Linked DNA regions of Homo sapiens. The protein of the gene in region 1 purifies or fractionates together with the protein of each later gene. This does not show direct contact. Each region holds a gene or a part of one and is shown on either strand. Other genes may lie near its edges.

Region 1 (3,500 bases):
TTTTTTTAAAGCATTTTAGGAAGTCCTCTAATTATATAGTAAAAATTGTCAGCAATGGCCTGCTAGTTTTCTATTTGACCTAATCACAACCATCCTCGTTAGGTCCTGAGGTCTGCTCTGCTGCTTGGCCAAAACCAAATGGTGCCAGGTCACAAAGCACTTGCACATGTGAATCCTGCATCCATTCTACAATGGGTCACTATTGACTGAAATACTTTAATAAAAATGATAGAGCACATAAAGCTTGCTGTTGACAGAAACTTCCGTGCTCAAGCAAGGCAGTGCTATACATGGTGAGACCTTGCACAAAGTCAGTTAACTAACAGATGATCTAGAAGCAGGTGACACAATGAAATACCCTTTGGAGCTGTTGCCTATGTCTGTGGATAGGCTCTTTGTAGCTAGGTTAGGCTTCTGTGTTAAAGTGTGTTAGAAGAAAGCATCACATAAGGAAAATAGAACTCTATTCGTATGTTTTTTCAAAACAGAAGTCAAGTCACATTCAGGCAAACCAAATCTGTAACATTCAAGAAGATGCAGTGACTCTTCCGCATCTTAGAGCCACGGTGTCTGAGGTGGCTGGCATGGCTCCAACACGCTGGCTTCCCTGTCAGTGGATCATTTACAATATGGTGCATTTCAAATTACTGGTGAATTCACTGAATACTGGCTGTTTTTTTTTTTTTAGGGGTAATCTTATACATAAAATTTAGGAAAAGAAAGAGAAAAAAGCAAAAATGACAGAAATAACTCAAAAGTTCCTAAAATTTATGTGTATCTTTTCGTACCTGTGAACTCCTGAATAAGTATTTATATCTGACAGGTACAAATACAATAATTATATTTTTAAGTAAAACCTATTTAATAATATGAAGTATGGTGTTAAATACATGTATTAAAAGATAAGTAACTTCAGAAGTCTTCTGACTTTTTAATTGTAAAATAAGTGAAAACTGTTTTGTGCTTTTTTATTTACTGTATGCTTTTTTTTTTTTTTTTTTTTTTGAGATGGAGTCTCACTCTGCTGCCCAGGCTGGAGTGCAGTGGCGCCATCTCGGCTCACTGCAACCTCCGCCTCCTAGGTTCAAGCGATTCTCCTGCCTCAGCCTCCCCAGTAGCTGGGGTTACAGGCATGCGCTACCACGCCCGGCTAATTTTTGTATTTTTAGTAGAGGTGGGGTTTCGCCATGTTGGCCAGGCTGGTCTCAAACCCCTGACCTCAGGTGATCTACCCACCTCAGCCTCTCAAAGTGCTAGGATTACAGGCATGAGCCACCACGCCTGACCTACTGTACGCTTTTTACAAGCAGCGTGCTTTTCTTTTTCTTTTTTTTAAAGACAGGGTCTCACTCTGTCACCCAGGCTGGAGTGCAGTGGCATGATCACGGCTCATTGCAGCCTCAACTTCCTGGTCTCAAGTGATTCTCCTGCCTCAGCCTCCTGAATAGCTGAGACCACAGGCATGCCCCTCCACACCTGGCTAATTTTTTAATTTTTTGTAGAGATGGAGTCTCACTTAGTTGTCCAGGCTAGTCTAAAACTCCTGGGCTCAAGTGATCCTCCCACCTTGGCCTCCTGAGTAGCTGGACCCAAGGGCGCTTGCCACCACTCCCAGCTAAGTACTTTTCATATTAAAAAAAAAGAAGAAGAAAAAAGAAAAAAACCAACTCCACTTCTAATTTCACAACAGAAAAATTCTTCTAGTGCTATTACTCTACTTAATTCAATCCTGTGTTGTTGTTTTTTTAAATCAGAAACATGAATCTGTACCAACACTTTTTCTTAATTGGCTCCTTCCCCTACAGAAACACTTAGGTAGCGAGCTGCAGGAAACCTGCCTTTGTCCCTGTGTTGTGCACTATGTCTTGCCACACTTTAGACAAAACAAAGCTCCTTTAGAGAAACCCTGGCTGGAGGGAAGAAAAGTGTCCCGGCTGTCATTGCCATGGGAGTCTGGAGTTTCTGAGAGGGCAGCCCAGGTCACCAGAGTTTCCAGATTTAGTACCAACCGTGGAAACATGAAGGTGGCTGTAATCCAAGGTGAACTGGACTGCCAGAGGAATGTCAGCTTCGGACAGAAAATGGAGGATTCCTCATCTGGAGCCTGTCTCTATTGCCTGATTTTCAAAGAAACCAAGTTTTCATTTAACTTTAGCTAACCTTCTTTCAGAAAAGTTTAGTTATTAAAATACATTTAATGCTTGGTATTGTGAACATGCAGACGAAAGAAAATAAGATTACAAAATGAAATAAGAGCTAGAATTAAAAGCCGATGTATAGGAAATGTTCTCAACTGTGCAAGTGATTAACAGCCAGATGTTCCCCTACGATTCCAAACATGAGTCCCCAGTGCCAAGTTCCAGCCCCAACTCTGCTGGAGTCTCAGAGAAAATGTATAGTAACAAAAGCAGCCAAGACTTGTGTGGCGTCAGCTCTTATTTCTTCTTGAGTTTTTGTCCCGTGGATGTGAATCACTAAGAACACATGCATTCCTCAAGTTTTAGAAGATAAATAAGGTGGAAAAAAATAAATCTTAGGGATTTGCTTCAATTCTTATTTAAGCTTCATGGAATGCAAACATAGGAGGCTAAAGCAGAAATAAGTATTGCTTCAGTGATCATGAGTCCAGCCAGCTTAGTAAACAAAACAGGGGTTACCTTCCTAACCTTCTAAGTTCCCATTTACCTACAAGTCTGAGGGTTTTAATCTGCCAGGGTCCCTTGGCAAAAGGGTCAGAAGTCATTGTCACTCTCATCCAGGGGTTCAGATTTCCGGACCCTTCGATTGGGCTTGGTTGGTGAGAGAGAAATGCTCTCGTCTTCCAAATCGTCATCCTCGTCATCATCATCTTCCATGTCAATTTCACTCTCCTCCGAGTCCTCCTATAGGAAAAAAATGGCAGATGCAACGGGGGATCCTGCCTCATTCCTGACATCTTGTCCTAAGACTCTCTGCCTCCCTTTCTATAGCAGCATCCCTGTGTGAAGGAAGAGGCTGGCAGAGTGGCAAGCAGGCTGTGGGAGGGCATACAGATGGGACTGAGGCTATGTACTGCCAGCTGGAATTTATCATCCAACCAGAATCCTCCAAACTGCAGGTGCATCTGGGTGTGGTGCTGCAGGGGCTGGCTTTCCCGCAGCGTCTAAGAAGCACTCTGCATCTGCGCTGAGGGCCACTGGACCTAGAGACTCCCCCTACAGATGGCAAGAAGGACAGGGGCTTGGAGAGAGGGAAGGGAGGCCTGTTTTGGCTTTTTGTAGATTGTGGATGGAAAGCAACATAGACATTGGTATAAGGAGCAAAGTGAATCCCAGCTACTCCGGAGACTGAGGCAGAAGAATCGCTTGAACCTGGGAGGCAGAGGTGCAGTGAGCCGAGATTGCACCACTGCACTCCAAAGCAAGACTCCATCTCAAAAAAAAAAGAAAAAAAAGAAAAAAAGGGAGCAAAGTGAAAGACACACCCTCTCTCTCCTCATCGGATCCAGGGCTCCAGGGTGA
Region 2 (3,500 bases), on another chromosome or scaffold:
AGCCTCCTGAGTAGCTGGGACTATACACAGACACACGCCACCATGCCCAGCTAATTTTTGTATCTTTAGTAGAGATAGGGTTTCACTATGTTGGCCAGAATGGTCTCGATCTCTTGACCTCGTGATCTGCCCACCTCAGCCTCCCAAAGTGCTGGGATTACAGGCGTAAGCCACCGTGCCCAGCCGTGAAATTTATTTCTTAATGCTTATAGAAAAGTTTTAAAATGTATTTTAATTAAAATTTAAAAATTTTTAAAAATAAAAGAGGCCAGGTGGCCTCTTTTAATAAAAGGTGGCTCATGTCTGTAATCCCAGCACTTTGGGAGGCTGGGGCGGACAGATCATTTGAGGTCAGGAGTTCGAGATCAGCCTGGCCAACATGGCAAAACCTTGTCTCTACAAGAAAATAACAAAAATTAGCCAGGTGTGGTGATGCACACCGGTAGCCCCAGCTACTCCGGAGGCTGAGGTGGGAGAATTACTGGAACCCAGAAGGCAGAGGTTGCAATGAGCAGAGATCATGTCCCTGCCTTCCAGCCTGGGAGACAGAGAGAGATCCTGTCTCAAAACAAACACACAAGAAAAACCCCAAAAACAAAACACCCCTTGATCATGACACAGAGAAGCTGAAACTATCCATAACATCCATAATTCGATGTTAAATCCCCAGTGGGACACAGATGACTTGGTGAGACTAATGAAATAAATGACAGCAATGATAACTGACATACAGATTAAAAGCTAAATTCCTCAGCCTAGCTCCCAATCACATCTCCCCAAGTAAGACCCTTCTGTTTCCACCAGAATGAATGCGTCTACACTTGACCTACTTGTTACTCAAATTACTTCCCCAATCTGGAATGTAGCTGAAGTTTTATGACTTCCCAACGGATTTTTTTAAAGGAGGAATAGGGATGGGGAAAGTGGTGGTCTGTGACCCAAGAACTCTTGCCCAATTAACTTGTCTTCCTGAAATTTCAAACTGAGTAATATACAGCAATTTTGTATGTATAACCCTGCAGAGAACCAGGACAGACTGAGTCTTTTACTTCTATTATCATATTTGTGATTTTTATATATCATCACACTGGCCAAACTTTACATCATCCCAAATCTTCATAAACTACAACATTATGCTCTAACTTCACAAATACTGTCTACTGATTACATACATACTTCAAAGTTCACTGGGGTATGGTGGTTTATGTCTGTAATCCCAGCAACTTGGGAGGACCACTTGAGGCTAGGAGTTAGAAACCAGCCTGGGTAACATAGGGAGCCCTGTCTCCACAAAAAAATAAAAAATAGGCTGGGCGCGGTGGCTCACGCCTGTAATCCCAGCACTTTGGGAGGTGGAGGTGGGTGGCTCACGAGGTCAGGAGATCGAGACCATCCTGGCTACCACGGTGAAACCCCGTCTCTACTAAAAATACAAAAAAAAAAAATTAGCCGGGCGTGGTGGCGGGTGCCTGTAGTCCCAGCTACTCGGGAGGCTGAGGTGGGAGAATGGCGTGAATCCGGGAGGCGGAGGTTGCAGTGAGCCGAGACTGCACCACTGCACTCCAGCCTGGGTGACAGAGCGAGCCTCTGTCTCAAAAAAAAATAAATAAATAAAATAAAAATAAAAAATTAGCACCCAGCGCAGTGGCTCACACCTGTAGTCCCAGCACTTTGGGAGGCTGAGGCAAGTGGATCACCTGAGGTCAGGAATTTGAGACTGACCTGGCCAACATGGTGAAACCCAGTCTCCTCTAAAAATACAAAAATTAGCCGGGTGTAGTGGCGGGTGCCTGTAATCCCAGTTACTGGGGAGGCTGAGGCAGGAGAATTGCTTGAACCCAAGAAGTGGAGGTTGCAGTGAGCCAAGATTGTGCCATTGCACTCCACCTGGGATACAGAGCAAGACCCTGTCTCAAAATAAATAAATAAATAAATAAATAAATAAATAAATAAATAATTAGCCAGGTGTGGTGGCACACACCTGAAGTCACAGCTACTAGGGAGGCTGAGGCAGGAGGATCCTTTGAACCCAGGAGGTTTGAGGTTGGAGTGAGCTATGATCATGCCACTATACTCCAGCCTAGGTGACAGAGTGAGACCCAGTCTCAAAATAAAAAAATAAAAATAAAAGATAAGAGATTGCTGGCCCTTGCTTAACTTTTAAAAATTTTTTTACTTTGAGATAGGGTCTTGCTCTGTCACCCAGCCTAGTCTGGAACTCCAGGACTCAAGTGTACAATCTACCCACCTCAGCCGCCCAAAGTGTTGGCATTACAGGCGTGAATCACTGTGCCCAGCCCCTTGCTTAGCTTTAAAAACAAGTACACCAAGGTTCTTTTACATTGGCATTGGGTAATAGCTGACAAGATGCATCTCAAACTGCTATTAAAGAAACCAATGAGGCCGGACGTGGTGGCTCAAGCCTGTAATCTCAGCACTTTGGGAGGCTGAGGCAGGTAGATCACCTGAGGTCAGGAGTTTGAGACCAGTGTGGCCAACATGGTGAAACTCTGTCTCTACTAAAAATACAAAAATTAGCTGGGCACAGTGGTGCACACCTGTAGTCCCAGCTACTTGGGAGGCTGAGGTGGGAGAATCGCTTGAATCCGGGAGGCAGAGGTTGCAGTGAGCCGAGACTGGCCATTGCACTCCAGCCTGGGAAACAAGAGTGAAACTCTGTCTCCAAACAAACAAACAAAAAAGCCCCAGTGAGCATAATATGTCTTTTTTCAAATATATTCCATGGGTTTCTGTCACTGAGACTAGTGCACCTTCTGGATGGCCATATACAACAGACATTCCTGTACAAACCTCTGCAGTGAGGTACTCCAGAATCGCAGCACTGTACACGGCAGCAGTGGCACCCACCCTTCCATGGCTTGTGGTGCGAGTCTTCAAGTGTCTGTGGATGCGGCCCACAGGAAACTAAAAGAGAGATGTCTTAGTGGGAAGCACTGCAGAGTCTTAACATTGCACTGACTGTAATCAAAGGCTGAACAATGTAAGCATGAAATAATAAAAAACTTGATCACACATATCAGAAGCCAAACCTATTACGCATCAATAGTTCCCAGGGCCTGTGTCTCTGTTCTGGTAATCTGTCCAAAATCTTTAACCTCTGCATAATATGGGAAATATCACTCTAAAATGAAGAAATACCACGCTGGGCTGTCATCAACTGTACGTTCAACATGACCCATGGATCAAATTCCTATCTAGTTAATTTCTTCACATAATAGCCACATGCAACTTTGAACCTCCAATACCTTCCTCAGATCTTAAATGTTCTTTCTTCAGTTTCAAGAGGTGATCTGATAGTTAAGAAAAATCAATACTATTATCTCATTGTGGTTCTTTCTACTTTCTGAAAAAGAGGGTATTTTTCTCATTTCAAAGTATCCTGATCCCACTTGTCTGTGCCCTTTATTATTTTTTTTATTGAGACAGAGTCTCACTCTGTCACCCAGGCTGGAGTGCAGTGGCGCCATCTTGGCTCACTG
Region 3 (3,500 bases), on another chromosome or scaffold:
CCGGCTCCTGGCCAGAAGCACTAAGTGCCTCCCCAGGCCAAGGCTCCTCCCCAACACCCAAAACCCTGACCCTGCCGCACGGCTCAAATAATTCCCATCCTCGTGCCCCTCAAGGCGGGCTATGGGAAACACCTGCACACAAGCAGGAAGCGCCAGAACGGGCCACGCTACTGTCAGCACGAGCTCAGGGCTGGGGAGCGCCAGAACGGGCCACGCTACAGTCCCGTCAGCACAAGCTTTAAGATTTTTATGCACAAATAAGGGTATGTGAATTAAGAAAAAAATTAATTACCCAACAGACTCACAAACAATAGAATCTTCAAATTTTTTCAACTTATTGTTCAATTATTTCAAGAAAACACTTCTATGCTCTACTCTGATAACATGGTTCTGAAATTTGAAATCAATCTTTGACATTGTAAAGTTCAAGCTTCTACCCTCTCCCACCAGTTACTCTAAATTAATGAGGTTTGAGCTTACGAAAAACAAAGACCAGGCCGGGCGTGGTGGCTCACACCTGTAATCCCAGCACTTTGAGAGGCCAAGACAGGCAGATCTCTGAGGTCAAGAGATCGAGACCATCCCGGCCAACGGGGTGAAACCCCATCTCTACTAAAAATACAAAAATTAGCCGGGCGTGGTGGCGTTAGCTGGGCGTGGTGGCATGTGCCTGTTGTCCCGTCCCCGCTACTCAGGAGGCTGAGGCAGGGGAATCACTTGAACCCAGGAGGCGGAGGTTGCAGTGAGCCAAGATCAAGCCACTGCACTCCACCCTGGCGACAGAGCAAGACTCTGTCTCCAAACAAACAAACAAACAAAAAACAAACAAACAAAAACAAAGATCCAGCATGGCTCAAAGGAGAGGCCACAGGGCTGCTGGGCACGACCTCAGCCCAAGAACGCTGCGAGGCCAGATGTTGCTAAAGAGGAGTTTCCCTGGTAGGCAAGACGGGTCGTGAGCGTGACGTCTCCCTAAATTAGGAGGGGAAGAGGGGACGTGACAGTCAGTGCAGCAGGTGACCTTGGGGACCAGATGAGCCACAGGGGCTTGAAGGGAGAGGGCCAAGAAAAGGCAGAGGAAAGAGGCTGCTGTGTGAAAGAGCTCTGAGAAGCTCAGGCCAGAGCCAGGTCACTGAGACCCACGACTCCCATCCCCTTGGGGACAGCCTTAAGGGCCTTGTCAGCAACCAGGGACACAGCTCGGGCGGACCACCCACATCAAGCGTTCCTGGCTGGAAGGCACAGCTTCTCTCTGGAGTTACCTGGCCTGGTCACCTCACCAGGTCCTCCTTGGAGAGAAGGAGCAGGAAACCTGCACTGGTTAAATGTACCTGGATCTTTCTAGAGGCACAGTGAGGCCCTTAGCATCTATGAGCTATGTCTGTCGCCGCTTTGTGGACAATGGAGCTAAGGGTCACAGAGCACCCGTGATCACATGACTTGTGCCCAAGGAATTAGGGCTGGCCCACCTCTGGGCAGCTGCAAAACCCACTCGTCCCCAGCCTTCCCACCAGACCAGCCTCGTTCAACAGATGCAGAGCGGGCGCCTCCACAGCCTTCACTGCACTGTTTTAAACGTTTCACACCAACTACCTCATCTCAAACTCAAAACTGCCAGAACTTAGGAGATAAATACTGTTACCTCCTTTGACAGATGCAAAGCCCAGGCCCAGAGCGATCAAGTGTCCAGCCAGAGGCTACCAGGCGGTGAGGGGCAGAGGCCCAGAGCCCACGATCTTAACGGGCCATCTACAGGCCCCAGACCCGGCTCCTGCCCTGTCCTGGCGCTCCCAGCTCTGCCGACTGTGAAGCCACATGCAGTCTTCACTGTCACACTGGTGCCCTGAGCTCTGCCCCCACAGCCAGGCCCTCTCCCTCCCCAACCTATGACTTCCCAAGGCTGTCAAGATGTAAAAAGTATTCCTTGTGCTCCTCACCGACTCCCTTAGATGAGTGAAGGAAGCTTTTTCCTGGATTTATCCCTGGGAAGTGACACTGCTCACCATCCTCCAGCCAGAAAGTCAACACTCCCAGCATTGACCATGGTGGCCGGGAACTCTCTAAAACACCTCAGACTCAGTAGGAGGTGCAGGGGGACGGCGTTCCCTGCTAAGCTCCGGACACTGGAGTGAGTGGGAGTTCCCAGACCCTCTCACTGGCCAGGCTGACGTGTGTGCTGCAGGGCTGCAAGGAGCACAACCAGGAGACGGGAAGGGCTGCGCATGGATCTGATGAAACTGAGAGGACCCTGCTTCGGCTTCAGGATCTAAACCCTCAAGAGTTATTTGTACAAAATGATAAGCAGCTAACCTCTGCAACACATAAAGCACTTGTTTAAGAAAAGGATCAAAACTGCCCCAAACATACAGACAGACCGAAAGAATCAGCACACACGGAGAAAACAGTTCAAACCCTGTTGGTCACCAAAGCCCAAGTTCCTGTGGCTTCAGCGTGGCTGCCAGGACGCAGAGCAGTTCTTGCAGAGCTGCGGAGACATGATGCAGCCCAGGGGCAAAACCACAGCTGTAATCTACTCTGGGGAATCGCCCCAAGAAACAGCCAGGGGCATCCCTTGCTCAAGGACATTGTCAGGTACAGGTTAGCTGGAAAGCTGCTGAGACCTCGGGTGCCTGAGGGAACAATCCCAGACCTGCTGGGTATCAGCATGGTAACCCGTCGAGCCTGCCTCACCTCTCCTGATGGAAGGGACGCTCCGTGCACTCGAGCCTGCCTCACCTCTCCTGACGGAAGTGACACTCCTCACGTCCAGCTCCAGCTTCTGCACCAAGGCGCTGGGGTCTATCTTGGTCCTGGCAAAGATGTTGGTGTTGATGAACGCCCAGTCCTAATGTCCCCAACAAAAACGGACGAAAAGAAGAGGTGTGAGACTTGCTCTGTGGTTTCAGAGGGACGTTAAAGGTGAGGAGAAGATGCAAGACAAGAACCTGGATTCCCCAGCTTCTCTGCCCGGGAGGACCTGGGGGAAACAACCCTCACCTCCCAGAGCAGAAGCCTCCGGTTCCAGAGCTCCAGGGCAGACCCGCAGCGCCCAGGCCCACCTGCTCCCTGCCTTCAATCACCAGACGGGCTTCACTCCTGGTTCTTCAGGAGTCAGGACCAGTATCTCAAGAACCAAATTTCCTTCCCAACCATTTCGTCTTACTCTTTCTACAACATTCTCCTGTGTCACAGAAGAAACCTGCAGCTGAGCAGATGAAGGATAGGCAGCTCCCAGCCTGACAGCTCTTTCAGCTCAGACTGACCACATCCCATCAGAACTAGTCATCTCAGCAGCCTCTCTGCCAGGTCTGGTTCTGAGCCACACTCATCCCTGCATGAAGATTTCAGTTCCTCCAAGTCAGCTGCCGACCAAACCGTGAGGAGACAGAACCCCCCCGTCCCTGACCCCCGTGCTGCCCAGCCCATTCATGTGCAAGCCTCACTGACCTTGGCAGGGAAGGCAGCATCGACCTCAACAGAGGTTTCTGAAGGGGGTCAGA
Region 4 (3,500 bases), on another chromosome or scaffold:
TTATGACTGAGACAGTCAAAGAGATCTAATCTAACCGACTCCATCTTGGTTCTAACCTTTAAGCTGTCATTGTTCGTTCCTGGGTGTAGGCTGAACTAACTTTGGGAGAACTTAGTTTATAGTTTATAGTCTAAAACAAAGACAATAAAAGCCATTTCCCAAACAAACCCCCTTCTTGCCTGGAGACTAGATTGCCTTTGTAGGACTAACAAATTAGCCAAAAGATTAGAAATTATCATTTAGGAGTCATGCAGCTGAAGGCTACAAGATTCTGACCACCACTAAACTGCTCCTAATATCACTGCTTGAGATATTTTGCAGACCCTGCACTTGATGGATCAGCTGGCAACACCCAGATCGATAAATTGGCTCATCTGATCTTGTGGCTCCCACCCAGGAAGTGACTCAGCACAAGAAGACAGCTTTGATTCCCTATGATATCATCTCTGACCTGACCAATCAGCACTCCTGGCTCACTGGCTTCCTCCCACCCACTAAATTGTTCTTAAAAACTCGGATCCGTGAATGCTTGGCGAGACTGATTTGAGTAAAATAAAACTCTGGTCACGTGCACACTCGGCTCTGCGTGAATTACTCTTTCTCTACTGCAATTCCCCTATCTTGATAAATCAGCTCTGTCTAGGCAGTGGGCAAGGTGAACCCTTTGGGCGGTTACAAATATAAGGACACTTCCAGGAACAGTCTGTTACTACACAGGTGTGTATTCCCTCTTTTTTTTTTTGAGACGGAGCCTCGCTTTGCCGCCCAGACTGGAGTGCAGTGGCATGATCTCGGCTCACTGCAACCTCCACCTCCCTGGTTCAAGCAATTCCCCTGCCTCAACCTCCCAAGTAGCTGGGATTACAGGCGCACACCACCACGTCTCGCTAACTTGTTTGTATTTTTAGTAGAGGTGGGGTTTCACCATGTTGGCCAGACTAGTCTCGAACTCCTGACCTCAGGCAATCCGCCTGCTTCAGCCTCCCAAAGTGTTGGGATTACAGGTGAGAGCCACCACGCCCCACCAGGAGTGTATTCTTACACCAATATTCTGCTATACTCTTAGATGAAGAAGGGACAACCCTAGTCAGCTAATAAACTGGCACCCTTCCAAACCTCTACTTAGTATTAGTTGTTTAATCTTTATCTGAAGAAGCTTAGTAGTAATTCACCTCTTTGAGGTTCAACCCCATTCAGAATGGCACAGTAGTTAACTAACATTAACTGAATCCACCCTCCTTAAAATGACAGTTTGATAATCATCTTTTGTTATTCAAAATTATGTGTCTTAGCTCACCTCCCAAAAGGATTAATAAAGTACGGTATTCTTTCCAACCACATTCTAATCTCTTTCTGAGAGGAGTTCTGGTAAGTGCAACTTTCTCCATCTCTTTACATTTATGAGTCTGAAGTTTCCACATGTCTGGGAATTTCGGGACTGGCCCCGCCGCCCCACCACCCCACCATAGTCTGGTTGCTCAGATAGTTAACTGCTCAACTACTTACTCCAAGTTTATCATAAGTCCCTTTGAAAGAAAAAGCTAGGAAATAAAAGACGGGAATTTTATTGCGTATATACCTCAAGCCTCAAAGCAAAGAAGGCTGTAACTGAATTTTAAGACAAAATATAGCTATTTCTTCTTTTTCCAGTTAAAAAGCAATTAATAGGACAAATACAAATATCTATGAATATAGAACTATTTAAGCAATATTTAAAAACTAAAATATCCAAACAATTACAAATAGCCCACTTATTAGCATGTAAGCAGAACTGACCTGTTCATATGAAATCTAGCTACTGCTATTAATAAAACAGTGTAGCATAATAAATGAATTTCAATTACAATGAAAATGTGGTGTTACAGACTATGAAATTTTTGCATATTAAAACAACTTTTTTGGTTGGGCACAGTGACTCACACCTGTAATCCCAATACTTTGGGAGGCTGAGGCAGGTAGATTACTTGAGATTAGGAGTTCGAGACCAGCCTGGCCAACATAGTGAAAGCCCGTCTCTACTGAAAATACAAAAATTAGCCGGGCATGGTGGTGTGTGCCTGTAATCCCAGCTACTCGGGAGGCTGAGGCAGGAGAATCGCTTGAACCCAGGAGATGGAGGTTGCAGTGAGCCGAGATCATGCTACTGCACTCCAGCCTAGGCAATAGAGTGAGACACCATCTCAAACTAACAAGCAAACAAAAAACACTTATTTTCTCCTAAATAACAACAAAGAACCAAAAAAACAAAACAAACCCTTGCATCTTTCTGAAACTATTAGGACCACGGACACTTCTACCTCAGCCCATATCTATCAGCTCACATCCTGGAATCTCTCAAAATCCTCCTCTAGGTTTTCTTGGGGTTTCATTTTTGTTTTTGTTTTTCTTGTGGAGAAGGGTTTTCTCTATGTTGCCCAGGCTGGTCTCAAACTCCTGAACTCAAGCGATCCTCCCACACTGGCCTCCCAAAGTGTTGGGATTAAAGGTGTAAGCCAAGGAGCCTGGCTCTCCTCTAGTTTTTAAATTAACCTTTTGACAAAATGAAGCTTACCTACTGGCTCTCCATCACTTTCTGGATTCTCTTCTTTAGTGAAGACTTCAGCCTGTGGTTCCAGCTGAGGAAGTGGTTTCAGTACATCAACATTCATCGGGCCATTTCGTAATCGTTGTTTCAGTAGAGAAACCTAATATAAATGTGCTTCATTAGAAAAAAGTCAAAAAAAACTATGGGAGTAGTACAATTGTCCCTTGGTATCTGTGGGGGATTGGTTCCAGGATTCCCTGTTAATACCAAAATCCGCAGGAGCTCAAGTCCATTATATAAAATGGTGTAGTATTTGCATATAGCCTACACACATCCTCCAGTATAATTTAAATCATCCCTAGATTACATAAACTACCTAAATAATGAAAATGCTATGCAAGTAGTTGTTGTACTACATATATTTTAGAAAATAATGAGAAGAAAAAAAGTCTACATGTTCACTACACATGGTTTTCACCCCCTAAATATTTCTGATCCAGTTGGTTGAATCCACACATACAAAAACACATCAATGTGGATGGCTTATTGTACTTTATTTAAAACAGAGAGAGGACGGATTAAATGATATTCTTCTTACTAAAGTGGGGGAAAATAATCAAAATAAAAAGTTTACTCCCAATACAGCTGGTTTTTATATTTGCTATTATTATTATGCAGTTAGTCAAAAGATACAATAAATAAAAAAGTATCCTTAACATTAACTGAAGAGCTAGGAGTGGTGGCTCATGCCTATAATCCCAACACTTTGGGAGGCCAAGGCGGAAGGATCGCTTGAGCCCAGGGGTTTGAGACCAGCCTGGGCGACATAGTGAGACCCCATCTCTACAAAAAATTTAAAAATTAGCTGGGCGTGGTGGCATATGCCTGTATTCCCAGCCACTCTGGAGGCAGAGGCTGGAGGATTGCTAGAGCCCAGGAATTTGAGATTGCAGTTAAGCTATGATCACGCCACTGC
Region 5 (3,500 bases), about 50 Mb from region 1:
AGGTCTCACAAGCAGCGGCTATTTCAGCCTCGGTGTGTTTTATATTAGACCCTTTCACTGGCCAGGGGACCGTAAAGAGCCTGGTGTTCAGGTACTTGTAGGTGCAGCCTGGATTACCAATGAGGATGCGAGATACCGGAGTGAGCAGATCTTTGCCTTGGATCCTAACCAGGTCCCGAAATAAGCAGCCATGCTTGTGCAGTGTGAGAAAGGCTTCTTGAACCTCTTTATGGAGCTCCTCAGATACACTGCTGGCTTCTCGGAGAATTAGTTTAGGATATTTCAGCTGCCACTAAAACAAAACCAAAGCAAAAACAGACGTTGATATATAGCTACAATTGTATTATTTCCAAAGGTGTGTTTCTTTGTAAGCATTTGGGGAGTTGTGGGGGGACTACCTGGTGGCTATTTCTAAATAGGAGTCACATCTTCCTAGCCCAAAACAGAAAACCAAATAAAACAAATGTCATCAAACTCTAAAGTCAAGATTTTCAAGTTCAAGCTCAAATTACTAACAATCTTTAATAAAAAACAAAAAATAATAATGTGTGTCCTGATACACCAGGATTATTCTGTGACCACTTTTTCTCACCCTAAATCTCAACACCATTTTATTAACTGCTTATTATCTAAAATATTTATTAAGTGCTTACTACGTACCAGGTACTGTTGTAAGTTACTTGTGTGCATTAGCTCATTTTAACTCTAGGCATAGTATTATTATCTCCAGTTTATAGATGAGACCACTGAAACACAGAGACATTAATCTGACCAAAGACATTAATTTGCCCAAAGTCACACAGCTGGCAAATACTGGAGCTGGAATTTAAAGCCCCTGGACACCAACCCCTGGCTTCCAGGGCACGAGTTCTTAACCATGAGAATGCATTGTCTCAATAAATGACAAACTGGTTTCTGCTTAACACTTTCACAAAAAGAGAACTCACTTCTCTTCAGGAGTTAGACATTAAGTTCCATGAACACAAAAGCCATGGCAATTTTGCTCATGACTATAATATGAGTGCCCAGAATTTACTCAGTAAATGGTAAAGGAATGAATAAATGGATTTGTGCATGGATGAATGAGGTATTATTACATTGTAATTCTACAAAATTCTAATAATTCTACTGGTGTCACTGGAGGAGAGTAATATTGGTCAATTCCCTTCCCTAATACAGAAATACATGGAATGATTAATGTAGGTTAGGGCTGCATTAGCTTTTCGGCTACCACTTTCCTTAGGACTTGGCATGTGAATCGGTGTCAGACTGGAGTTTCCTGATTCTGTAAAATGCAACTGATTTATTTGTAACCAAATCACAGGATTTTACATTTACCTCTGTAACGTTTGATCTGATTTGTTCCTCCCTAGTTTTAGGCTGTCTTAAAGAAAGAGTCAGACATGATCAACACATTAACCTGTCCTCCCTGTATTGTGTTGCCCACCATTGTTAAGATACCTTCCTTCTCTGTCTTCATTTAGTAATTACCATTCACATGATAGGCAGGGCAAGACCAGTATTCTTCCAAACGTTTTTTTTTTCATGCAGCATCTGTTTATTGAGCACCTACCACCAGATGGAAACAAGGTCCCTGTTCTCACAAAGCTTTCTACCAAATCAAGTAAATAAATAAAGAAAAGCAACCCCAAATTGTGTTAAGTACTAAGACAGAAACAAACCAGCAGGAAATCTTATTAGAACAGGAAGAATTCTCTAAGGAGACGGGATTTAAGCTGAGATCTTCAGGAAAAGAAGGCACCAGAAATATGACAAGCCAGAGAAAGTGCTTCCCAGAAAGACAGACCAGAGAAGCCAAAGGCACTCAGGAAAAAGACCAACCTATTCTAGGGACAAAAAAAGGCTTGTTTTACTAGAGCACAAGAGCCAAAGACAGAGTGGCATGCTACGAGGAGGCAGAGGAAGGCGGAGGCCAGATCACACATAGCCCTAGAGGTCGTGGTAAGGAATCTGAAGCTAACTCTAGATGCACTGGAGGATGTAGAAGGGAGAAAAATAACTTGATTTACATCTTATACAATCGCTCTTAGTTATAATATCAGGCACAGATTGGAAAGAGGCACATGTGAGCGTGGAATGTGCTATTACAATCATCTGGAAGAAAAGTGATGGTCTGGACTAAAATAGAGACAAAGATAAGTGGACAGATGAAATACATACGTTGTAGGTAGAACTAAAGGATGTGCTTATGAATTAGATGTAAGGGATAAAAAAAGATATAAGTCTTTTGGGGTTTTTTGGGTTTTTTTGAGATGGCGTTTCGCTCTTGTTGCCCAGGCTAGAGTGCAATGGCATGATCTTGGCTCACTGCAACCTCCACTCCTGGGTTCAAGTGATTCTCCTGCCTCAGCCGCCCGAGTAGCTGAGATTACAGGCATGCGCCACCACACCTGGCTAATTTTGTATTTTTAGTAGAGACGGGGTTTCTCCCTGTTGCTCAGGATAGAAGTTAAGAATACATTCCAGATTTCTGGATTTAACAACTAAATAAACAATTTACTATTCTGTGAAATAAGGAAAACTGAGGCAAAAGAGAAATAGTAGAAAGAAGAAAAGGGGGAAATGAAGAGTTCACTGTAGAGCTGCAGCCTTGAAGATACCTATGAAACCTCCAGGTGAAAATATGGTGGGCGGGGGGAGGGGAATTGGATGTACACATCTGGAGCTCAGAAGAGAAAGCAGGGCAGAGGAACGCAATGTGGGAGTGATCAGCACACAGCTTGGTTTTAAAGGCCTAGAAATGAATGAGATCACCTAGGGAAACAGTACAAATATCAAAAGGAGACCAAAGCTATTTCCTGAGTCGCAGCAGAAGCCTCAACAAAGGAGAACCAGCAGAGTGTATTATTGCAGAAGCTAAAAGAGGAGAGCATTTCTAGAAGGGCGGGGTACTCAACTATGTCACCTGACACTGAGAGGCCAAGTGAGATGAAGACAGATGATCCAGTAGATTTGGCAGCATGAAAATCACTGATGGCAATGACACGAGCAATCTCAGTAGAGTGCTGGGGGTGAAAGTCAGATTGGAGTAGGCGAAGATGGAATGAAAGAGGAGGAAGTGAGATGGCATGTAGAGATGTCTCTGAATGGTTCTGCTATGAAGGGGAGTAGAAAAATGGAGCTTTTGATAAAGAAGAAGGCTAGACTAAGGGACAATCTCTAATGATGGAAGACGCTAGAGAACACCAGAGTTTCTCAGTACACTCATGAGAATGATACAAGAGAAAGAGGCTGACGATGCAGAGAGAGTGAATAACCAAAGAAGTCGAGACCTTGAGTGTCTAGAGCAGTAGCCCCCAAGTCAGGTATGCAAGGCTTTGTAAGGCCATCTGGAAGAGTGGTGGGGCACAGGGGAGAGGTAGAACTGCTTTATTTTTAATATAAAATGAAAGAACTCAAGCATTATTAAAATATGTATGCATATATATATATACACACACACATATACACACAAATAGGTTTAATATGAATATTATTAT
Region 6 (3,370 bases), on another chromosome or scaffold:
ATGTGCAGCCAAGTCAGACACAAGTGTGAGTAGCCTGGGGACTCTGATTGTGGCTGGAGTCTAAAATAAGGGCAGTCTTAGGGCAGGTGCGGTGGCTCATGCCTGTAATCCCAGCACCTCGGGAGACCGAGGAGCACGGATCACTAGAGGTCAGGAATTCAGGAGTTTGAGACCAGCCTGGCCAACATGGTGAAACCTTGTCTCTACTAAAAATACAAAAATTAGCTGGGTGTGGTGGTGGGCACTTGTAATCCCAGCTACTTAGGAGGCTGAGGCACTAGAATTGCTTGAACCCGGGAGACGGAGGTTGCAGTGAGCTGTGATGGGGCCACTGCACTCCAGCCTGGGTGACAGAGCCAGACCCTGTCTCAAAAAATAAATAAACAAATAAATAAATAAAGGCAGTCTTTTTGGGAACCTTGCCCTTTAACTTGTGGGATCTGTTTCTAATTCTAGGTAGTTAGTGTTAGAATTGGATTGAATTCTAGGATATGAGAGAATTGTTTAGAACACAGACTTTTTATTTTTTGCATTTATTGTGGTAAAATATACATAACATAAAACCTTTTAACCATTTATTTTTAAACATTTTAAGCTTCTTATTGAAATATAACAATATAGGAAACACATACACAGTACAACTTGTAAGTACACTGCTCAATCAGATTTCATCTGGATCAAGAACAGAATATTCCAATATTCCGGAAAAGAAAAGAAACATGTTAAAAAGAAAAGATTTTTATTTAAAAAACCTAGACATAGTAATTAAAATGGGGGTTAAGAGAGGTAATCTCTCTATCCCTTTGTGTGTGTGTGTATATATATATATATCATACATAATCCCATATCTATGCATCTATACCCACCCTATAATGTACCATTTTCAGAAATGGGTTTGCAGAAGACTTTCTAAGGGGTATTTGTTTTATTGTTTAAAAGATTATGTGGTAATAACTTTGGGATACACTAAATAGAGTAATCAAACAAGTTTGTCACCCAAGGAAATTTTCACAAATTCAGACTTCAGGGCCTATTGACTGATCATTCTCAAGTCAAGAGAGGAATGAGGAGAATCCTTCTTGCCCATTCTAGATATATTTTTTAAATTATGATAAAATATACATAACAAAATTTACCATTTTAACCATTTTTATGGGTACAATTTAGTGGCATTAACATTCAAAATGTTGAGCAACCATCATCGCTATCCATTTCCAGAATTTGTTCATCCCAAACAGAAACTATGTACTCGTTAAACAATAACCCCACCCCCCATTTCCTCCTCCCTGCAGTCCCTGGCAACCACTATTCTCCTTTCTGTTTCTGTGAACTTGCCTATGCTGGTACCTCATAAAAGTGGCATCATATTTGGCCTTTTGTGTCTGGCTTATTTCACTTAGCATAGTGTTTTCAAGGTTTATCCTGAGGTAGTATTTATCAGAATTTCATTCCTTTTTAAAGCTAAATAATATTCCATTGTATGTATTATAGCACATTTGTTTATCCATTCATGATAGACACTTGAGCTGTTTCCATCTTTTGCTATTCCAGTAATGCTGCTATGAACTTGGTGTATAAATAGTGGCATTTTATACATTTGTACAAATCCATCCTCATGTATTTTTGTTCTATAAATAAACTTTTGGAGGCATTTTACAATTTAGAGGTCAAATAGAAATTAATGGTAACATACATTTCAAAGAGTCCAATGTTTTATTATCGACATTAATATTTGTTCATGCTGAAGATTTAGGGATGAAGTAATGGGCAAAAAACTGACATATAATCGACACTACACAGGTATCTCTTAAGTACATAGTAATATTTTGCTAATTATTGGACTAAAAAATATAAAAGATAGAAATACATCAATTACTTTGTGTTTCATCTTTCTGCATGTACTTTTACACTAAATACACAGCAAGTACTTATACTCGGTTAAAGATTATGCTTTTTTCTTTAGCAACCAAAACATGCTTACCCTTGGTTAATCAGAACGTGTTTCAAAAGATAAAATTTCTTAAAGATACGCATGGCATTTAGGGCTTTAAACCTATACTCTTGCTGGATTGGCTGCTTGATGATTGCTCTCTTTCTTTTGTAATTTCCATCTCAATTTTGGCTTTGATTTTCTCCCAATCTATTTGGAGCTGCAATAGAAAAAAAAAAGAAGAAATATGCTTAGATAGTGTAAGACATTTTTGTTTACTCCAAAGTAACTAAGAGTAAACAGATAGACTGTGTGACTTCCAAAAGATTAGAGAAAAAGAGAGCATCAAAAGATTAGAGAAAAAGAGAGCATCAAAGTTAAGAAGAAGAAATAATGCTTGGCCAGGCATAGTGGCTTACTCCTGTAATCCCAATAGTATGGAAGGCTGAGGTGGGTGGATTGCTTGAGTCTAGGAGTTTGACAACATCCTGGGCAACATGGCAAAGTTCCGAGATGGGAAAATAAATACAAAAAATAAAAAAAGTAGCTGGGTGTGGTGGCACACACCTGTAGTCCCAGCTATTAGGGAGGCTAAGGTGGGAGAATCAACTAAGCCCTCAAGGTCAAGGCTGCAGTGAGCCGTGATTGCACCATTGCACTCCAGCCTGGGTGACAGAGCAAGGGCCCTGTCTCAAAAAAAACAAAAACAAATAATGCTCAAAAACCACAAAGTAGTTTTAAGAATAAGACCAAAAAATAAGAATTATATAATAAAAAGCAAAGACTCTCATTGTGATTTAAAAGACCAAAATCTAGTCACAGCTATTTATAAAGGTACATCTAAACAGTCCCATGGAGCCTTAGGATTGTGTACACGTGCTCAGGGACAAGGTAGGGGATGAGATGGACCGCTGTCTTCCAAACGAGGAAAAAGTGGACCGGACTCTGGTTACCAAGCCATTTTTCAAATAGGCTTCACATCTTATATACTGCAGTTTCCACTGGAAGCCTAGTTATGAGGAAAGACAGGGATTCATTAGCTTCCCCTAAGCATATTCTGTGAAAGTGGCTCCTTTGCACCAACTCTTAAAGTAAGACATGGTGGTCATTAAGACAATGAGGAAAAGATGTTAGAGAAAGCGAAGGGAAAGCAAGACTGGGAAACACATGAAAAGAATAACTGCAAAGTGCAAACATTTTTATTTGTTTGCTTCCCTTCTATCCGTTATGCAGTCTCCCCTCCCCTAGCCCAGCCCTATTCCTCTCTTAAGTTCATTAGACTTGTTAGGAATAGACTCTGCCCCTGAGTTCTATGAGCAACTTCTTTAGGAAAGCACATTCTACCAGTTAACAAAGTTTGGAGATCACTAATTTAGGAATGTTTATCCTTTCTGAGGCAAGACATGGAAAAAATTGGGTCATAGATTAAACTAACTCTGA
Region 7 (3,500 bases), on another chromosome or scaffold:
CAAAGACATCCCCTCAAAGGGAGTATGCATGCCTACTACAGGGACCACCCCTCTCTTCTTAGACCAGACCCCCTGCAGGACCCTTTGCTGGCACAGCAGGGACTTAGCATGCATGGAAGCTAATTAGGTGAGAGACTCTGCTTCTGCCTCCTGGAGAATTTCAATCCAAGACAAGCACAACAAGTTGTGAAGGACCAACAAGGGGAGGAGTACATCTCAACAAGTTGGTTGAGAAGGACCAACAAGGGGAGGAGTACACCCTTAGCATGGAACTCAACCACAAGCTCTCAAAACAGGTAATGTCACCATGACCCATGGGATCACATGTGCGTGGACCACGTGCTTCCTCACATCCCTTAACTCACCTGACATGGATCAACAGGTAACTCCTGTATTCTCACTTGAATGAAGAGAAGAGAAACTCAGGTTTAGAGGCTAATCCCAAAGACATATGACTGGTTAGAGTAGAACCCAGACTCTGCACTAAGCATTCAGAGGCGGCAGGCTGTGGAACGCTTGAGGACTTGGCCCTAGAGCCAGACTGCCTGGGTTCAAATCCCAGCTCGGCCTCTTATCAGCTGTGTGACCCTGGAAAAGTTACTCAGCCTCTTGAAACAGATGAGGAAGATGGCTTCCTCATCTGTAAAATGGGGAGGATGATCATAACAGTGCCTATTTCATAAAACGGTTACAAAGATGAGTTCATTTATGCCAAACTCTCAGCCATGCCCAGTGTGTTTCTGTGCATCAACCTTGAGGTGCAGTGGAAAGAGAGTCCCTGGAGTTCCGTCTTTGGTCAAGGTGGGGCTGCAGGAAGCTGGCCTCCCTCCCGCATCAGCACCAATCCAACCCTCTATCCCAGTGGGTGAAGGTATGTGGTTATGTGCAGCGGACAATGTGGCAAAGCTGCATCCATTTACCAAGAGAACTCTGATGGACTACAAATCCTGGACCTCAATGCTGAGCAATCTCTAAAGTAAACAAAGTGAAAATAAACCAATCACCCAGGTAATAGAAGATTTTCCTCTTGTCTGCACTGGTAATTGGGTCATGGTAGCCAACCTCCCACGTCCCCTGGTGCTGCTGTGAGTTTAAAAGAGAGTAAAGGAAGCTGTCTGGCCAGAAACACGAGTGCAGGTTCCGGGAGGAGGGCAGCCACACCCGCTGGTTCCAGCTTGTCCTGGTGCACCTGTAGCACGTGTGCTACGTCTCACCCTTCTCACCTTTCCTCTAACTAAGCCCAGAAGGGCACAGAGCTCCACAGGCTCAGGGGTGCACCCAGAAGGGCACAGAGTTCCACAGGCTCAGGGGTACACCCAGAAGGGCACAGAGCTCCACAGGCTCAGGGGTGCACCCAGAAGGGCACAGAGTTCCACAGGCTCAGGGGTACACCCAGAAGGGCACAGAGTTCCACAGGCTCAGGGGTGCACCCAGAAGGGCACAGAGTTCCACAGGCTCAGGGGTACACTACGAGCACAGGACTGGGTGTTAAGCCTATCCAACCTCACTGCTGGGACTTGCTTGGGTAAAACACGGTTTCCACTTTCCCACAAGTTCTCAGGCCCAGCCTCACATTTTTCCACCCCCAGGCAGGGCAGCTCTATTGTGTGAATAAGGGATCTTCAGCACAGATGGGGTGGGGACAGAGGCCCTTGGAATCTGAACCACAGGGGAAGCTTGCCTGCTCCTACCTCCATGCATCTTCTAGAAACACCTGGAGCATCACCCAGAGTCAGACTCCACCCACCATAGAGCCTGCTGCCCCATAAATGCCTCCCTTGGCCAGCCCCATCCAGGATGTGTCAACAAACAGACAAGGGAAGAAAGTGTCCCGCTGGCATTCCGAGAAAGCCAGGGCTGGGAGCCAAAACACACCGACAAGGGGGATGCTCTGTCTCCTGAAGAATCTGTCACAAAAGAAAATTCTATAGCCCTCAAGCTGGAAGAGGCCCTGGAGATAACTTTGTCATCACAGGGTGGCACCCTCTAGTTGCCCCAGGCAGATGAGGTCCTAGAGGAACCCGTCCCTAATATTGAACTTCAAGAGGTCCTTCCTGTATCTAACTCAGCCTTCAGAGAAAGGGCAGAGCAGTTACAAGGCAAGGATGACTGAGAACTCCAACACCTGAGGCCAAGACTCAGCACTGTGTACAAGGTGTGGAGCCTGTAGAGGACAAACCTGACTGAGGGTTGTCCTCCCCCTCACCTCAGCCTGACTGCAAATTTGTTTATGTCATCCGGATGACGTCATGCTAACTTGACCAGTTGGAGCAGCTGTGAGGGAAAACAGACCCCAAAGGTCCCTCTCCTGAGTCCTGTGAGGGGAAGGGGGTGTCTTTGTGTGGATGCTGTTGGTGAGTAGAGAGCCAATGGAGCATAACGCTTACAGTGCAGGCTCTGAAATAGCCAAGCTGCCTGAGTTCAAATCCTGCCTCTACCGTGTATCGGCTGTGTGACCATAGACATGATACTGTGCCTCTCTCTTCCTCAGTTAACTTTTCTATAAAATGGGCATGATGGCAGTGCCTAGCCAATTGGGTTGTAGTGAGGCTTCCATAAGGGAATACATGGACAGCCCTTGGGCCATGCCTGGCACTTTCTTTGCATTGCTCTTGTGAAGGTGACCAGTTTGCCTGGAACATCCTGGCTATGCTTGTGGTCCCAGCATTGCTATGAATATTCCCCCTTTCACTCCCGGCAGTGCCCGAGGTTGGATGATGTATTATAAGAGTGACTCCCTTTGGCTTCTTCATGTCCACCTGGTTATCTCCCTGCTTCATGCTGCCTCTGAGTACTGGGGAGCCAGGTTCCCAAAATATAGGTCCCCAAAGTAGGTTCTGCCCATGCCACTGAGCTGTCTGCTCCACAAACTCAGCTCTTCCTCTTTTCCTTCTTCTCTGCACTTTGTCTCTTCTCCTTCCTTGATCCTTACAGCCATCCTCTCCTTTCCTGCTTCCCTGTCCGTGCCTTAGGATTCTGCTGGTGCACACAGGTACCGTCTGGCTTTATTGGGACTTCCCCCTGACCCTGTACTTGGACGGAACCCTTTATGGCTCTAACTAAACTGTGCCTTATCAAATTTCTCTCAGAGGAAAGGAAGCGATTTGAAAAGGCAAAGAAATGACCAATAGATGGATGAGTGGAACAATGTGCTGGTTTTTGTTGTTGTTGTTGTTGCTGTTTCTTTGTGTGTGTGTGTGTGTGTGTGTGTGTGTGTGTGTGTGTGTGTGTGTTGTGTTGGTAGGAACAAAAAGTGTACCAGTTTGAAATGGTCCATTGAATGCTAGACCTGTCTATAGAACTGTCCCCAGGGCTATTTTTTTTATTTTTTATTTTTATTTTTTGAGACGGAGTATCGCTCTTGTCACTCAGGCTGGAGTGCAATGGCGCAATCTCAGCTCACTGCAAACACCGCCTCCCGGGTTCAACCAATTCTCCTGCTTGGCCTCCTGAATAGCTGGGATTACAGGTGCCTGCCACCAAGCCCAGCTAATTTCTGT

What was found.
Region 2: the proteins of CLUAP1 (region 1) and H2AZ2 purify together in Homo sapiens (affinity purification with mass spectrometry, with the first as the bait; one large-scale study listed by BioGRID). This does not show direct contact.
Region 3: the proteins of CLUAP1 (region 1) and SLX9 purify together in Homo sapiens (affinity purification with mass spectrometry, with the first as the bait; one large-scale study listed by BioGRID). This does not show direct contact.
Region 4: the proteins of CLUAP1 (region 1) and GOLGA4 purify together in Homo sapiens (affinity purification with mass spectrometry; one large-scale study listed by BioGRID and IntAct). This does not show direct contact.
Region 5: the proteins of CLUAP1 (region 1) and FTO purify together in Homo sapiens (affinity purification with mass spectrometry, with the first as the bait; one large-scale study listed by BioGRID). This does not show direct contact.
Region 6: the proteins of CLUAP1 (region 1) and IFT80 purify together in Homo sapiens (affinity purification with mass spectrometry; 2 studies listed by BioGRID and IntAct, with this or other methods). This does not show direct contact.
Region 7: the proteins of CLUAP1 (region 1) and CRACR2A purify together in Homo sapiens (affinity purification with mass spectrometry; 3 studies listed by BioGRID and IntAct, with this or other methods). This does not show direct contact.

What each region holds. Positions count from the first base shown.
Region 1 is NC_000016.10:3,535,504-3,539,003, reverse strand, and holds part of CLUAP1 (clusterin-associated protein 1), read right to left. Parts: intron 2,883-3,500; coding exon 2,733-2,882; 3' UTR 1-2,732. UniProt on the Homo sapiens protein: Required for cilia biogenesis. Appears to function within the multiple intraflagellar transport complex B (IFT-B). Key regulator of hedgehog signaling.
Region 2 is NC_000007.14:44,838,088-44,841,587, forward strand, and holds part of H2AZ2 (histone H2A.V), read right to left. Parts: intron 2,926-3,500; coding exon 2,812-2,925; intron 1-2,811. UniProt on the Homo sapiens protein: Variant histone H2A which replaces conventional H2A in a subset of nucleosomes. Nucleosomes wrap and compact DNA into chromatin, limiting DNA accessibility to the cellular machineries which require DNA as a template.
Region 3 is NC_000021.9:44,943,029-44,946,528, reverse strand, and holds part of SLX9 (ribosome biogenesis protein SLX9 homolog), read right to left. Parts: intron 2,846-3,500; coding exon 2,692-2,845; intron 1-2,691. UniProt on the Homo sapiens protein: May be involved in ribosome biogenesis.
Region 4 is NC_000003.12:37,295,271-37,298,770, reverse strand, and holds part of GOLGA4 (golgin subfamily A member 4), read right to left. Parts: intron 2,685-3,500; coding exon 2,552-2,684; intron 1-2,551. UniProt on the Homo sapiens protein: Involved in vesicular trafficking at the Golgi apparatus level. May play a role in delivery of transport vesicles containing GPI-linked proteins from the trans-Golgi network through its interaction with MACF1. Involved in endosome-to-Golgi trafficking.
Region 5 is NC_000016.10:53,822,656-53,826,155, reverse strand, and holds part of FTO (alpha-ketoglutarate-dependent dioxygenase FTO), read right to left. Parts: intron 293-3,500; coding exon 1-292.
Region 6 is NC_000003.12:160,256,486-160,259,855, forward strand, and holds the end of IFT80 (intraflagellar transport protein 80 homolog), read right to left. Parts: intron 2,151-3,370; coding exon 2,040-2,150; 3' UTR 501-2,039; downstream 1-500.
Region 7 is NC_000012.12:3,746,610-3,750,109, forward strand, and holds part of CRACR2A (EF-hand calcium-binding domain-containing protein 4B), read right to left. Parts: intron 1-3,500.